Linked DNA regions of Homo sapiens. The protein of the gene in region 2 interacts with the protein of the main gene of each other region in a biochemical or structural test. Each region holds a gene or a part of one and is shown on either strand. Other genes may lie near its edges.

What was found.
Region 1: the proteins of TOP3B (region 2) and TDRD3 form a complex in vitro, tested with the Homo sapiens proteins (2 studies listed by BioGRID and IntAct, with this or other methods).

What each region holds. Positions count from the first base shown.
Region 1 is NC_000013.11:60,393,051-60,400,219, reverse strand, and holds the start of TDRD3 (tudor domain-containing protein 3), read right to left. Parts: upstream 3,001-7,169; 5' UTR 2,856-3,000; coding exon 2,815-2,855; intron 1-2,814. UniProt on the Homo sapiens protein: Scaffolding protein that specifically recognizes and binds dimethylarginine-containing proteins. Plays a role in the regulation of translation of target mRNAs by binding Arg/Gly-rich motifs (GAR) in dimethylarginine-containing proteins.
Region 2 is NC_000022.11:21,958,778-21,965,863, forward strand, and holds part of TOP3B (DNA topoisomerase 3-beta-1), read right to left. Parts: intron 6,599-7,086; coding exon 6,508-6,598; intron 5,539-6,507; coding exon 5,384-5,538; intron 5,252-5,383; coding exon 5,146-5,251; intron 4,117-5,145; coding exon 3,970-4,116; intron 3,826-3,969; coding exon 3,652-3,825; intron 1,673-3,651; coding exon 1,544-1,672; intron 960-1,543; coding exon 810-959; intron 456-809; coding exon 355-455; intron 1-354. UniProt on the Homo sapiens protein: Releases the supercoiling and torsional tension of DNA introduced during the DNA replication and transcription by transiently cleaving and rejoining one strand of the DNA duplex.

The sequences.
Region 1 (7,169 bases), on a different chromosome or scaffold from region 2:
TTGTTATCTAGATAAATTCAGAGTCAAATTTCTTCTCCCCGTGAAGTTATTCCATGCATATAATTAAGCTTTACAAGGTACCATTTAGTGCATTATTTAAACATTATCACTACTCTGTAGAAAGCCCTGGAACATTCAAGTTCAAATCAGCAAAATCTAATAGTTTGTGTGCTACTGGCCATTGAAGAACAAAAATTATTTTAAGTCCGCCAGGTAGCTACTTTTGAAGTTATATTTTAAAATACTGATTTTTATAGGGGTTCTAATGAAGATTAAAACCTTAAGAAGGAAAAAAACTGCGCTTAAAAATAATGTAAACTTGAACAGATTGGTCTACATAGATCTTCTGTACCCCCCTGAAGATCACATTTTCAGAATTGTAAACTTTTCAGCACTAAATATTTCCCTAATCTGCTATTTTAGGTGAAGCCTATAGAACAGATTTAACAATAGTGTGTCCATGTTTTAGCATCTACTTCTTTTTAGCTTCTACAAGTAACTAAGTACATAGATTTGAATACTAAGAAAAATGGTTTGTCAGTGACAGTTAACAGAGAACCCCAAGTGTAAGAGCAAACTCAGGATATAAGAACTAAAATGAGTTGGTGAAAGCCCTTCAGTCAGAAATTTTCCCTCCAGTGCTCTTTTCTGCCTTTAAACCTTTGTGATTCTAAATTTTAACATAGTAAGTCCCCAATTAAAGACCTAGTAGAAGCCACCTGAAAGCCTAGGAGATCCTCATGCCTAGTCTGTTCGAGACCTAGCAGGAATTACATGAAACTCACAATTCCTAGAAAGATAGTGTTTTTAGCCCCGCAGATTACTACTGCCTTTATGAGTCACTGCCATACAGAAGCAGCACAGACAGGTGGGAGAAACATAAACAGTTAAGTTGCAATATAAAGTAGCAAATGCTACAATATAACATTGCTGAAGATTTATAACAATATAACGAAGCAGGGTGGGACTCTACCTAAGCTTCTGCAGAGGCCCTGCCCAGAGAATTCTGACTGGCAGGGGCATTCCAAGGTCAACTGTATTAGACTTTACAGAGAACCTACAATCTGGTGCATTTCTTGACAATCCAGATAAGGAGAAAAATAAGACTCACTTCCCTGCCCTGGAAAAGCATAAGAGGCCAGAGAAAACAAAGTCAACACGTGTTCGGGACCTAAAAAATGAGACTAATCTTTCCAAAGGAGGGGGGGTCATGTTGGAAAGCAGTAAAATACTGAGTTTGTAAATGAAAATATTACTAGTGTGAAGGATCAACGCTCAACCTAATGAGAAATGGGGAGAAAGGCAAATGAAAGAGGGATCCAAGATTATTCAGGACACCCTTGTGGGTAAAAAAACTGAAAGAAGAGATTCCTATTGAACAGAAACAAAACTGAAGACAGTGTTTTTAACTCTACAATCTTTTACGCCCATGCTGTTCTGCGAAAAAACTGTAACAACAATAACGCATAAGCGTTAAAGGAACCAGGCCCAGAGCCAGGCCCTCTGTGCTCAACATTCAACTCCACCACTTTCTAGCTATGTCATTTTGGGAAAGTTACTTAACAGCTCTTTGCCTCAGTCTCCTCACCTGTAAAATGGGGTGTATAATAACACAAGTGCCTTTAAAATCAGGAGGGGCTTCTTCAAAGCACAGTTGTGATTATATCCCTCTACTGATCAAAAACTTTATTCACAAAATCAAATCCACATCTTTCACGAACCATATAGATCTTGTGTAGGTTCTGCAAAACAATAAGCGCTTCCCTGTGTCATCTCCAGCAGCTCTGTGCTAGAAAGCCTTTTCCTTACCATCTTTCCAAGTCCACTTTAGGAAAGTAACTCTCCCTCCCATTCCACAGTGCACTCATCTGTTCCTCTGTACGTACGGTTTATCACTATTCCCCCTGGTTTTGTTTGGTCTTTTAATGCCTCACTCTTTCTCCTAAAGCAGTAATTGCAGAGAGCCGTTGCAAATCTTTTTCATCCCCGTTCCTACCCTTCATCCCAGAATGTGCCTGTGCAAGCCTGGGAAAAGCGTTACTGAATTAAACGGGATGATTACAACCGTAATGGCCGCAATTCCAGAAACTGCCTAATTTCGCATAATTTTGTATTGTTTTCAAATCCTGAAAATCTTGACACGAAAGGCCTCTTAAAATCAGAACACCATCCTTTCAAGAAAAGTTCTACCGAGCACCCCCACGAGTTGACATTGCGGTCATTCTTAGCTCCAGAAGTTGTGTGTGTGCCGCGGAAGGCAGATTCACACTGGTCCACACTGTACTTTGAAATAAGGGGTAAGAAGAGGCGGCTCCGGCCGCAGCGCGGGCTGTGCTCTGCTCTGCCCTCAACTTCCTATGGGCCCGCGGGCTCCGGCCGCGTTCGTCCCTCTCCGCCGCACTTCGTTCCCAGCCCTCGCCTCCCGATCCCGCTGCAGAAACACCCCCTCCCCGGAGAAGCCGCGCGGACGGCGCTGCAGGTCCTCCCCGGCGCTCCGGTCGGCCGGGGTCTGGGCCGCCACCCGCCCGGCTCGCGGCCCCCGGCCTCTCCCCAGGCCCGCCGCCCGCCGCCCGGGGCCCAGGCCCGCCGCCCGGGGCCCAGGCCGCCGCCGCCGCCGCCTCCAGGGGACCTAGGGGAACTCGCAGGGCTCCGCGTGGCGCCGGGGGCGGAGCCGGCCCGAAGGGCCCGGGGAGAGGCCGGGGGCGGACGACAGCCTCCGCCTACCCCGACACGCACCCCGCCGCCCCCAACCCAACCTCCCTGGGGCCCCGGCCCGCACCCGCGGCCCGGCAGCCGGCGGGACTCGCCACTTACCAACCCGCCTGGGACAACGCCGCGCCGGCCACCTGGGCCATGGTAGCTGCTTAGGCCGGGGGTGGTGGGGGGCTGGGGTGGGGGTGATGGGGAGGCCTCCTACTTGAGACCCCCCCCCTTAAAAAAAAAAAAAGAAAAGAAAAGAAAAAACTCCTCTGGTCGGCTCTGCAACTGGGCATGCTCAGTGCGGCCGGCGCTTCCGCGTGCGGGTTCCGCTCGCCGCGTTTTCTGAGCGGCCGTAGGGGCCGGCCTGGTGTGGGGCTCCCAGGCTGCGGAGCTCCGGGACCTGATCCACCAAACACCGGCTGGTGGCTGGAGTCAGGACGGTTCAGGGACTTTGCCTCTTCCCCGAAGGCTTTTACTTGTTTTGGGGGGCGCTTTTCTGAGTTGCACACCTTGGAAAGTCGCGAGGAGGTTCTTCGTAGAGCAAAAGTGTGGCGTTTGCAGCGCCCACAGGCGGCCACCTCAGAGAGGGCAGGATAAGGCCTGAGGAGACTGACGGGTTGGCTGCGAGGGAACGCGTCCAGGACCGCGCTAAAAAGGTCACGTTGCGGGCAGCAAAACTCAGAGGTGTCCCCAGCCCATTCTGCACAAAAGTTTACTTTCTTATAAACACTCGTTCCCTTCACCTCGCCTTTTGGTCCGCCCGGACGCAAAGAAAAAATGCAGCTCAAGCTTTTTTGAGTCCCCGCGGGCAGATCGAGTTGCCCCAGTCGGACACCACAGTGAAAATGCCCTGGTCAGCCCAAGAAAACCTGCTTTTAGGGGACATGGGGAAATGGGGCAGTTGTGTCAGTGCTTGTTTTTCCTGTTGCCCTCCCCCTGGGACCATCCGTGTCCTAGCGCGGCCCTGCCACCTTGGCTCTGTACTGCCAGATCTGGCAACCACAGCCGCTTCCCCGCCGATGCCCTTCGCCCGCGCTGTAGAGGGCTGGGGCGCAGGGTGGGTCCCTGAGTGGGCATGCGCGCCGCCGTCGCCCAGCGGCACGGCGGACGCTACCGCGCGATTGGGCGTCCGTGACTCACGCTGGCCAATCAGAGAGGAACAGGCGGAAGGGTACGCGGGCCCAAGAGGCGCTCCCTAAAAGTTTGCTCCACCTTCTTGGTCTTTCACCTCTGCGGCGTCCCGTATTGCGGGGAAAAAGGCTTCTAAGGGGCAGCGTCCCCATCTGCCAGGTCAGGGGAAGAAGACTGTTAGGAACTTAATCCCTATCTCCGCCGCTTGCCGCTGCCCCTGCTTCTAAGGGCATCATCAAAAACAGACTTGGAGCAGAGACTGCGGAACTGGGCAGAGGCGCTCTTGGGATTGGGGAGGAAATTGGCAGTTACGGAAGGAAGGGGATAATTGCCCTGGGTGGAGCTAAAATTCCTTAATACAGATTTTTCTCATTTCAGCTGGGGTATTCCGTTTGGTCTTCCCAAAAGTCATAGTTATAAAATCGCGATGCTTTCGTTAGATGGAATGCTATTGAGATTTGCTCCCAAGTATATTGTTTAGATAATTTTAGATCACAAGTAGCTCCATCCTGTTCGCTGCAATGTGCAGTAGTATGCAGTGTTTAAGTCATACGTATGCTACAGGTATATTTCAATTTATAGTCATCGGCCATCATATACAGGAGCCAGGAATAGATATGCCATTTTAAAGGTAAATAGATGACTCAAAAATAAATTGCCAATAATTTTTATTGGCGGTTAGAATTTTCTGTTACCAATTATTTACATTTTTCAGTTAGTGTAACCTGTTAACTATGAAAATATGTTGTACCAATCATCAGAATTTCTCACTGGTTATAAAGTCATTTGTTCTCACATGTCGTGTGATTCAGTAAGGATTTACCACTGCATGGTCCTTACAATAATAAAGTACTCCACAAAACACTAAATTCTCTTAAAGAATGGGTTTTTTACTGGAGAAATGTGGGACAACATGAGCATCCAAAAAATGGTGACAATAATTGATGAAACACATTGAATTTCTTCGGAGTGCCACCAAAAATGAAGGAGGACAAAATCTTTTCTTTCAGAGCAATACAAGATAGTAAATGTAGAACAAATGATAGAATTAGAAAAATCACAGTTTTCCAAGTCAACCACAATTGATAGAGGAAAATTTATCAGACGATACTAAAAGCCACAGGGTAAAAGACTAGGAGTACAGGATCTTCACATGGTCTCAAAGTTTCAAGCCATAACTTACTTATTACAGAAGGGAAAATGTAGCTTTACCTTTTAAAAAAAAAAATCACTGCCTTAAGAGATCAAAGCTAGAATCACTAATAATGGGACAATCTAATGTATTCTGCTTACTGATGTAATGCAACTAGACATACACATCACTTAAGAAGTATTCTTGCCAAAATGGTTTAACCTGAGTTTAACCAAGCTTGTGGACAGTGGATCCTAAACCAACCCCCACACCCCCAAATCCATTTAGCAATGTCTAGGTTGTCACAATCTGAGGAGGTAGGAGTGTTGTTATGCATCTCATGGGATGCAGCAGGAATGCTGCTAAATATCCTACAAAGCACAGGACATCGCTGAACTCCAAAGAATGATGTGGCCCAGAATGTCAGTAATGCTAAGGTCTAGATGTAAGAAGAAATGTAAAGGACGTATAGGTGATATTTGAGCAAGTTAAACATGAAGACGCAGGCACATAAATCCACAATGAGGCATATTCTCCTCTGGCCTAGACTGTTAAAATGTAATTTAAGACTTTTTTTTTTTTGAGACGGGAGTCTCGCTCTGCCGCCCAGGCTGGAGTGCAGTGGCACGATCTCGGCTCACTGCAACCTCGGCCTCCCGGTTCAAGCGATTCTCCTGCCTCAGCTTCCCGAGTAGCTGGGACTACAGGAGCCTGCTACCGCGCCTGGCTAATTTTTTGTATTTTTAGTAAAGACCGGGTTTCACCGTGTTTGCCAGGATGGTCTGGATCTTGTGACCTCGTGATCCGCACGCCTCGCCTCCCAAAGTGCTGGGATCACAGGCGTGAGCCACCTCGCCCGGCCAGAAATAATTCTTTAGAAAAAAAAAAAGAAGGCTGGGCGCAGGGGCTCACGCCTGTAATCCCAGCACTTTGGGAGGCCAAGGCGGGCGGATCACGAGATCGGGAGATCGAAACCATCCTGGCTAACACGGTGAAACCCCGACTCCACTAAAAATACCAAAAAAAAAAAAAATTAGCCGGGCGCGGTGGCAGGCTCCTGTAGTCCCAGTTACTCCGGAGGCTGAGGCAGGAGAATGGCGGGAACCCCGGAGGCCGAGCTGGCAGTGAGCCGAGATCGCGCCATTGCACTCCAGCCTAGGCGACAGAGCGAGACTCTGTCTCAAAAAAAAAAAAAATATTATTTCAGATTTAAGAGATGCAAGAGACATGAAAACAAAATTCAATCCTGGATCTAAAAAATAAATGAAAAAAATAATTACTGGTGGCCAATTGCAGAAATTTGAATCTGGACTGGATATTGGATAGTATAATGGAATATGGTTTTCTTAAATGTGATAATGTTATTGTCCTTAAATTGAGAATTTTATGTCAAAACATTTATGGATGAAGAAGAATTGGATCTACAAGTTATTTGCAAATGAGTAAGAGAAATACATTTGTAAAATATATAAAACATATAAACATTGATACATGTATATAGGTAAGAAAGAGAAAGGAGGCTGAGGCAGGAGAGTCGCTTGAACCCAGGCGGCGGAAGTTGCAGTGAGCCCAGATCGCGCCACTGCACTCCAGCCTGGCGACAGAGCGGGCCTCCGTCTCAAAAAAAAAAAGGAAAAAAGAGAAAGGAGGTAAATATGGCAAAATATTAAAAATGGGTGAATCAGTTGGAGGAGGGTCCACATGTTTATTTTTTTTCTCTAGGTTTGAAATTTTCCAAAATAAAAAGAAGCGTGGATTACACTAATTTCACATCAAAATTTTAAATTGGAATTATGTTCTGTATAGATAATTTAGTGCCATGAAAAATGGTAATAGCTAACTAGATAAAATGAATTTCCATTTTTAATTAGATAAATCATTGATTTACAGAAAATAGAAAGTCTACAATGAGCTGAAGTTGGGGGAAACCCTAAGGGTAGAAAAAAAAATTGTTAGGTCCAAGAAAACAAAAACGAGGAATGAAATCTATTTCGAGTCTGTGGTAAATTAACAGAAGAGAGAGACTGAAAATCCATTCTCCTCTGTTTCGCCTCTTATCATTTTAGTAAAGGAAAAGTTTCTCAGACTGAAAAGGGTAAAAGAATATGGGTAAGTAAGAATAGAAGCTACAATAAAAAGTGAGATGATAAGAGTGCCTGGCCCTCTGAGGCAAATTACATCTTGTGACTGTAAGCCATTTGCATCC
Region 2 (7,086 bases):
ATGTAATCTGTCATGCAGAACCTGTGACACACTGCCAGGCAAGGAGCATGAGTCTCTGGCTCTTGCTCCACGCGTGCAGAAAAGGCAGTTCTAAAATCTCTGTGTGTACATTAATGCCCATGATGGCAAGTGGCATGGTGTTAGGGAAAAATGCACCATGTGTGTTTGCGTGGCCTAATGGCTGTGTATTCTAGGGGACGTGGGGACACTGGGTATTTTTTGGCAAGGCCTCTTTATGTTCCATCATTCTTTTGTGACAACCAGGACAAAGAACATGATTCCTGCTGATCAACGATAAAGCTGAGGCCTACAGGGGTGAGGCAGCTTGCCTGAGCTAGTGTTCCCTGCACCTACCTGGATGTACTTCATGAAGCGGTGGCACTTCCCACAGCGTGAGAGGGGCTTGCCTGTGGCCGCCAGGGGCGAGAAAGACACCTCCATCAACTCATCCATGCCTGCGGGCAAGCAGAGTGCAGGAGTCATCTCCCTCCCAGTCCCCAGCAAAAGGCTCCGCAACACGTGGTCAAGGGTCTGAGTGTGAAAGGGTCCCTATAGGCGGTGGTTTCTACTGTCCTGGCAGCACGGCAGGGCAGCAGCCCTGTGCGTCAGAGGCACGTGTTCCTGGCCATGTGTGGTGTTAATGCACCTGCTCTTTCAACCCAGCCAGGAGGTGTCACTGACCTGGCCTACGGAGGCCTGAAGCCCAGATCTGGGAGCTGGTCCCACGTGGGGACCTGGGTCCCCAGGTACTGGCCTTGCTGACAGAGAGACACCCCTCTGGTGAGGGGCAGGCCAGAGGCAGACTCTACCAGCAATGGAGTCGACAAAGTAGTGGAACTTCCTCTTGAACACGTCCAGGGTGTGGCCCAGGACCTGGCGGTAGTCGGCCTTGCCCTGGGCGATCAGGTTCAGCTGCTTCTCCACTGCACTGCGGATGGTGGGGAGCACCAGCTCTGCATCTGCAAGTGGGCAGGGGGCAGATATTGCCCTGAGCACTCGCACCCAGGGCCATGCCACCCCTTCCCAGGCAGGGATACTGCCCTGTTCACCCCTCCCGCTCTGGCCCGTCCTCCTGGCCTCTGCCCTACCCACCAGTCCACAGCCTCAGATGGTACCAGGCTGGCTCTTATGACCCCAGACCTTTCCTGATTTCCCACCTGGAAATGTCAGGCAGAGTGGCCAGGGATGTCCTGTGGCTAGAACCACATCACACATGAGCTCCAGGCCGCCCTTGGGCCAGTTTTGTGCTCCTCCCTCTCCCCTTGGCCCCTGGGGAACCTCCAGGGAACAGGGCTGAGGCAACTTCGCCTCCCTTTTTGGTTCCCTCACACATCTGTTCAGCCTTCAAACACACTGAGCTCCTGCTCTGGGCAGGTCCTGGGGGTCCTGGGGCAGCACCCCTTCAGCGGGTGTTGAGGGAGTGTGTGTGGGGCTGGGGGATCACTGTAGGGCAGGGGCCTGTCTGGAGCGGGCAGCAGAGCCAACATCCAGGGAGAAGCCAGGGAGCCTCGGTGGGCCCTGGGGGCAGGACTGAGGAACTCACCAATCTTATAGTAGCCGTGCACCAGGACGATGCCGAGGTTGGTGGGCTTGAGCCGGCGCCCGCTCTCCACCGTGACATAGTTGCGCTGGCAGATGTTGTTGATATGCACAGGGATGCTGGCATCCGTGCCTGCAATGTACAAGGCCCCAGGGTTCCTGGCCTGCCTTGGACATGCCCCACTGAACCATGTGCTGTATCACCTGTCACGGGGCCCCTGGTGCTCAGGCCCTCTCACTGCTCCCGGTCACAGGAGGGAGGGCTGTGCCCTGAGCTCCCCCTGCACTGTGCTGGGCACCAACTGCATGCATTTCATGTTCTGCCTTGAGAACACAAGGGCAGCCCTCCCTGTACAGGGCGCCTACTCCTGCTTTATGGCAGAGACAACAGGCTCGGAGGTTAAGGAACTCTCCAAGGTCACAGTGCTTATTCTGCGCCTGGAAAATGTGACTTCTATGGCTTCTCCTGCCTGGGTCCTGTGGCACCCACCTGCTCCCGGAGCCAGAGCCCCACTCCACCAGAACACGGAGGTGCTTACAAGCTCACTGCAGAGCTGCCCTCCCCTAAACCTGGACAATTCTGTCCACTTCCTGTCTCCCACCTCCTCCCTCTCTGCAAGGCCCGTCACGATCCCCAGGGGAGGCTCCCAGTCCCCAGGATTCCACTCTCCCACCCAGAGGAAGTTTCCTGGCAGAGGGGCGCAGCGGAGGCTGAGGCGTTTTGACTATGGCGGGTGCCAGTCAGAGGGGCAGAAAGGAGGCTGGGGCTCCCTGCATGCTCACCAGCATGGACAGGTGACACACACCTTCCCAAAGTAGCTCGGAGAGAATCTCACATGGGAAGAAACTGGCCTCTGGGGGCTAAGGAGCCTGCCGAGGGCCCATGGCTCTTGGCACGAGGCCAGCTCTGCACCCGGTGTGGCAGGCTGTGGGTGGCGTGTGCCACTACCACCCCGAGTCTGCCGGGCGCCATGACGCGTGGTGTGGGCTCCTCTGTGGCGGCTCTGGTCAGGCCCTTTTGACACACTCCTGGGGGCTCAGTCACAGGGCCACCCTGACCACTCTCCTGTTCAGAAGGTAACACCAGAGCCCTCTTCACTGTCACAAACTTGTATTGGTGATTGGGTCTGGCTCACTGGCTAGCATAGGGCTGCCAGGAGCCAGTGTCCCATCAATGCGAGAGGGCAGAGGACACGGGGGAGCAGAGCCCACACTCCACAGTGGGCTGAGGGCTATTTCAGGACCCTGGCAGGTGCCCTGGACCCCTGAGAGGAGCAAGCCCAGAGCTCTGCTCTCCTGCCAAGATCGCCATGGTCACCAGGACCCCAGCCTGGGAAGAGACACTCCCTGAGAGTCCACCTATATGACCACTGCTGGAGCAGAGCCTGGACACAGTGGCTGTGACATCCCACAGGTCTCCAGAGCCTGTCAGCCAGGGGTAGTGCCCCAGGGAACAGGCAGTGCCCAGCGGCGCGAGTGCCACCTGGGGAGAAGGCTCCGGCAGTGAGGCTGGCCCCCAACATGTGAGACATCTCACAGCTCCAGGCCTGGGGACTTGTGAGGCCACCACTCCTGTGAGGAGTGTGCACTGGTGACTACACTTTTGCTTTGATAAACTCCCTGGGCTGCCCATTTTTGCGTGGAAACTTCCTGGTCACCCTTTGGGGAGCCCTGTGCCTGGGACAGGCATTTCTGTTCTCTCCCAGGGAAGCAGCTCCTGTGAGATCTCATTTCCCTGTCACCTGATTTCAGGACAGCCCAGGCTGGCTGTGTGGACTCAGGGGACTGCCAATATGATTTCTATGAGTCACCTGGCATCTGGGCCAATCTTCAGCCTTGTGGGCGTTAGTCGGTGTGTGCACACCCCACAGTGCACGAGGGCACATCTGGGCCTTCACAGGGAAGGCCAGGTCCTGAATGGAGGCCTCAGGAGGGGATGCCCGCTGTGGACCTGCCTGGCTGGCCACACACTGGGTCACCAGTTTCCAGATACCAGCCCATGGAGGGGTGCTGGGCTGGGCACACAGGGCTGGCGGGGCAGCTTTGTGAGTAGACTCGAAGCCTGAGTACTGGAGACGGAGCCGGCTCTGGGGCCTGGGCAGGCGCACCCACCGATGCCATGCTTCTCCATGAGCGTGATGAGCTCGGCCTCCGTCAGGTAGTCGGGTGGGTTCGTCTGCTTCTCCAGCATCTTCACCTCGCCCACAGGGAAGGCATCACCCCGCTGGCAAGTGGGCAGGCTCTCCTCCAGGGGCACGCTCTGCCAGGGCATGACCTCCGTGAAGCCTGGAGAGATATGCGCCGCCACTCAGGGTCCCCAGCCTGGGTGGCCGGGGCCTCAGACCCTGGGCCTCCCATCCCCAGACACGATGTAGAATGTTTGTCTGCCCATGAAGGCACAGAGGAGGAAGGCTGGGCCCGTGGTGTGACCTGGTGAGAGGACGGTCTTCCCGGAGCAGGTGAAGAGCTCGGGCCCAATTCTGAAGGAGATGGTGCTCTGCAGGTACTTGCAGTCATGGCTGACCGTGGCGATGAAGTGTCTGGTGATGTACTCATAGAGCCGCCACGCGTCACCCCCTGCAACAGGCCAGGGCTAGTCAGTTGGGAGCCAGCTGGGGGCTCTGGCCGTGAGGAGCCCCCAGTACTCTCGCTCGAGCAGCAAGCTCCTGCTTACAGAGCCGCTGTGCAGGACACACTGCAAATCCTGGGGAAGGAGGAAAGAAAATGTGCAGGAAGGCCGGGCGTGGTGGCTCATGCCTGTAATCCTAGCACTCTGGGAGGCTAAGGTGGATGGATCACTTGAGGTCAGGAGTTTGAGACCAGCCTGGCCAACATGGTGAAACCCCGTCTCTACTAAAAATACAAAGAAATTAGCTGGGTGTGGTGGTGGGAGCCTGTAATCCCAGCTACTCGGGGGGCTGAGGCAGGGTGAACTGCTTGAACCTGGGAGGCAGAGGTTGCAGTGAGCCGAGATCGGGCCACTGCACTCCAGCCTGGGTGACAGAACAAGACTCTGTCTCAAAAAAAGAAAAAAAAAAAGCAAATGCGGAGGAAGGGAACACAAGCCTCCATGCCTCAGTGGTTTCTTTCTGGCTGCGGCTCCCACCATCCTGCACAACCTCCTGTCCCTGCTTCTGGCGGGACTGCTCTTCAGGCATTGGCCTGTCTTTCCATTGTCTCGTGACATGACACCATTGCTTCAAACTCAGACTGTCCACAGGTGGCTCCTGTCTCTACCTGCACTGCTCTCCCTTCCTCATTTGCCTTCTCCTGGCACTCGGACCACTGGTACCACCTTAGGCCAGCTGGGAGGTAGGAGGTGTGCTGCCCCCTCCCCCACACCGCCACTCTCTACCCTGGTTTCATTCATGTCCCCTGTGGCGTCTGCCCCCTTGCCTCCCTGCAACAGCACCTGCTGCTACCTCTTCACTCCTGTCCTGGTCCCATAGCAATGGAGCTCATCTTCCAGGTGGCCCCCCATCCCCACAGCCAGGGCAGGCAGAGGCTGAAGGAGCCCCCACATTGCCAACAGGGCCTGCAACCTTCACTGTCGCAGCTCGCCCTTCCCTCCCTGGAAGCACACCGGGTATGGGATGAGAGCGGTACCTAATTCGGCCTCTGTGGCAGACTTCATGGGGGTGATGGGGGGATGGTCGCCGGCGTCATGGCCTTTCCGCGGGCGGTTGATACCTTCTGCTAACAACCGCTTCACCTGAGGGAGAGAAGACAGAGCAGAGTCTGTGGCTGGGCTCGGCTGCCTGCCTGGGTTTGGCTGACGTACCAGACCTGGTCCCAAGGCCTCAGTGACACACACACATGCTGAGGCCGGCCCGGCTCCACTCACCGTGTCGGCCCAGTAGGGGTGGTTGGCCTGCTGCCGCAGAGAGCCCTTCAGGTCAAAGTTCTCAGGGTAGTGGGTGGTCTCTGTCCGTGGGTAGCTGATGTAGCCTTGCGTGTAGAGCCGCTCAGCCGTCTGCATGGCGTGCTGCGGCCCCATGCCTGCGAGAGACAGGAGGTTCTCAGAGGGCCAGGTACGTGGGGATGGCCAGCTGCCTGCCCTGGCCTATGCACTCAGGCTCCCCCATTGTGGCCGGCCCCTCCTGGAGGGTGACGGTGGCTCTGAGCAGGCACAGCTGGAGTGCAAAGCTGCTGGCCGGGTGGGCACCTATGCCACACAGTCTTGTATGAGGCTGAATCCCGCACCCGTAAGGCTGAATCCTACACCCAGGATGGGCCTGATGGGAAACGCCACTCACTCTACCCCACGGTGCATCCTCATGGGGCTCATGGCCATGGGGATGACACATGGCCTTCAGAGCACCACTCCCCATGCATTGTCCATGGAGCCATAACCATACCTCGGGGTTGGCTGACGACAGAGTTAGCACGCAGCCCCATTTTGAGCCCTTGGGTGTTTCTGTCCTCACAGCACTTTGGGGCCACTCAGGGGGGCTCGTCCTGCTACTCCCTGACCAGCAGAGGCAGGCGCTTAGCTAGCAACCACTCCCAGCATTGCTGCCCTCTGAGGACGCTGGAGCCACCACTCAGTGTCCACTGAGAGGACACTGCCCATAGTTCCCTGCGGGGGTGGGGGGCACCAATGCCTAGGGGCTGACAGCTGCCAGAGACCACCAGCTTTCCAGCCCAACCCCCTCCTCGTTACTAAGGAGAAAAGACTGAGGAGATGAGGCTGAGGGGCGACGTTCACACTGGTTCCCTGAAGGTGACATCTGGCTGGGGCCTCTCCCCTCACCAGGGATAGCTGCTCAGGGACTCTAACATCAGGAGGTCCCCTCAGGTGGTGACCAACTTTACCACCTTTACAACCTAAGGATAAGTGAAATCCTCCTGAGGCTCAGATCCCCTTGAAGCCTTGGGCACCATCCTGCAACCCTGGGCACTCGCTGCTCCAGGCTGAACCTGCCTCAGGAAGCCTTCTGGTGACTTGAGAGAAATGTCCCTACATACCCAGAGAAGAGCTGGCCACACGCAGCATCTCCACAGTGTTCAGGGCCAGGGGCCTCTGCTTGGCCTTTTCTTTCCTGCTTGTGGCCTCCACCTGGAAGACAGGACAGTCAATGATTTGGGGAAGGAGGAAGACACCACCATAGAGGGAATCAAGATGTGTGGACGAAGGGTCTGGTTTCATTCATCTGGTCTCCCTGTTTCTCCAATTCATTCTTCCCAACAGTCTAAAGACTTGATTGAATATTTATTCAGGACCAGGAAAGGAAAAAGAATGAAAATTCTTTTTTAAAAAAAAATTTTGGCTGGGTGTGGTGGCTCACGCCTGTAATCCCAGTACTTTGGGAGGCTGAGGCGGGTGGATCACCTGAGGTCAGGAGTTCGAGACCAGCTTGACCAAGATGGTGAAACCCCGTCTCTACTAAAAATACAAACATTAGCTGGGCATGGTGGAACGTGCCTGTAATCCAAGCTACTCGTGACGCTGAGGCAGAATTGCTTGAACCTGGGAGGTGAAGGTTGCAGTGAGCTGAGACCACGCCATTGTAATCCAGCCTGGGTGACAGAGCAAGACTCCATCTC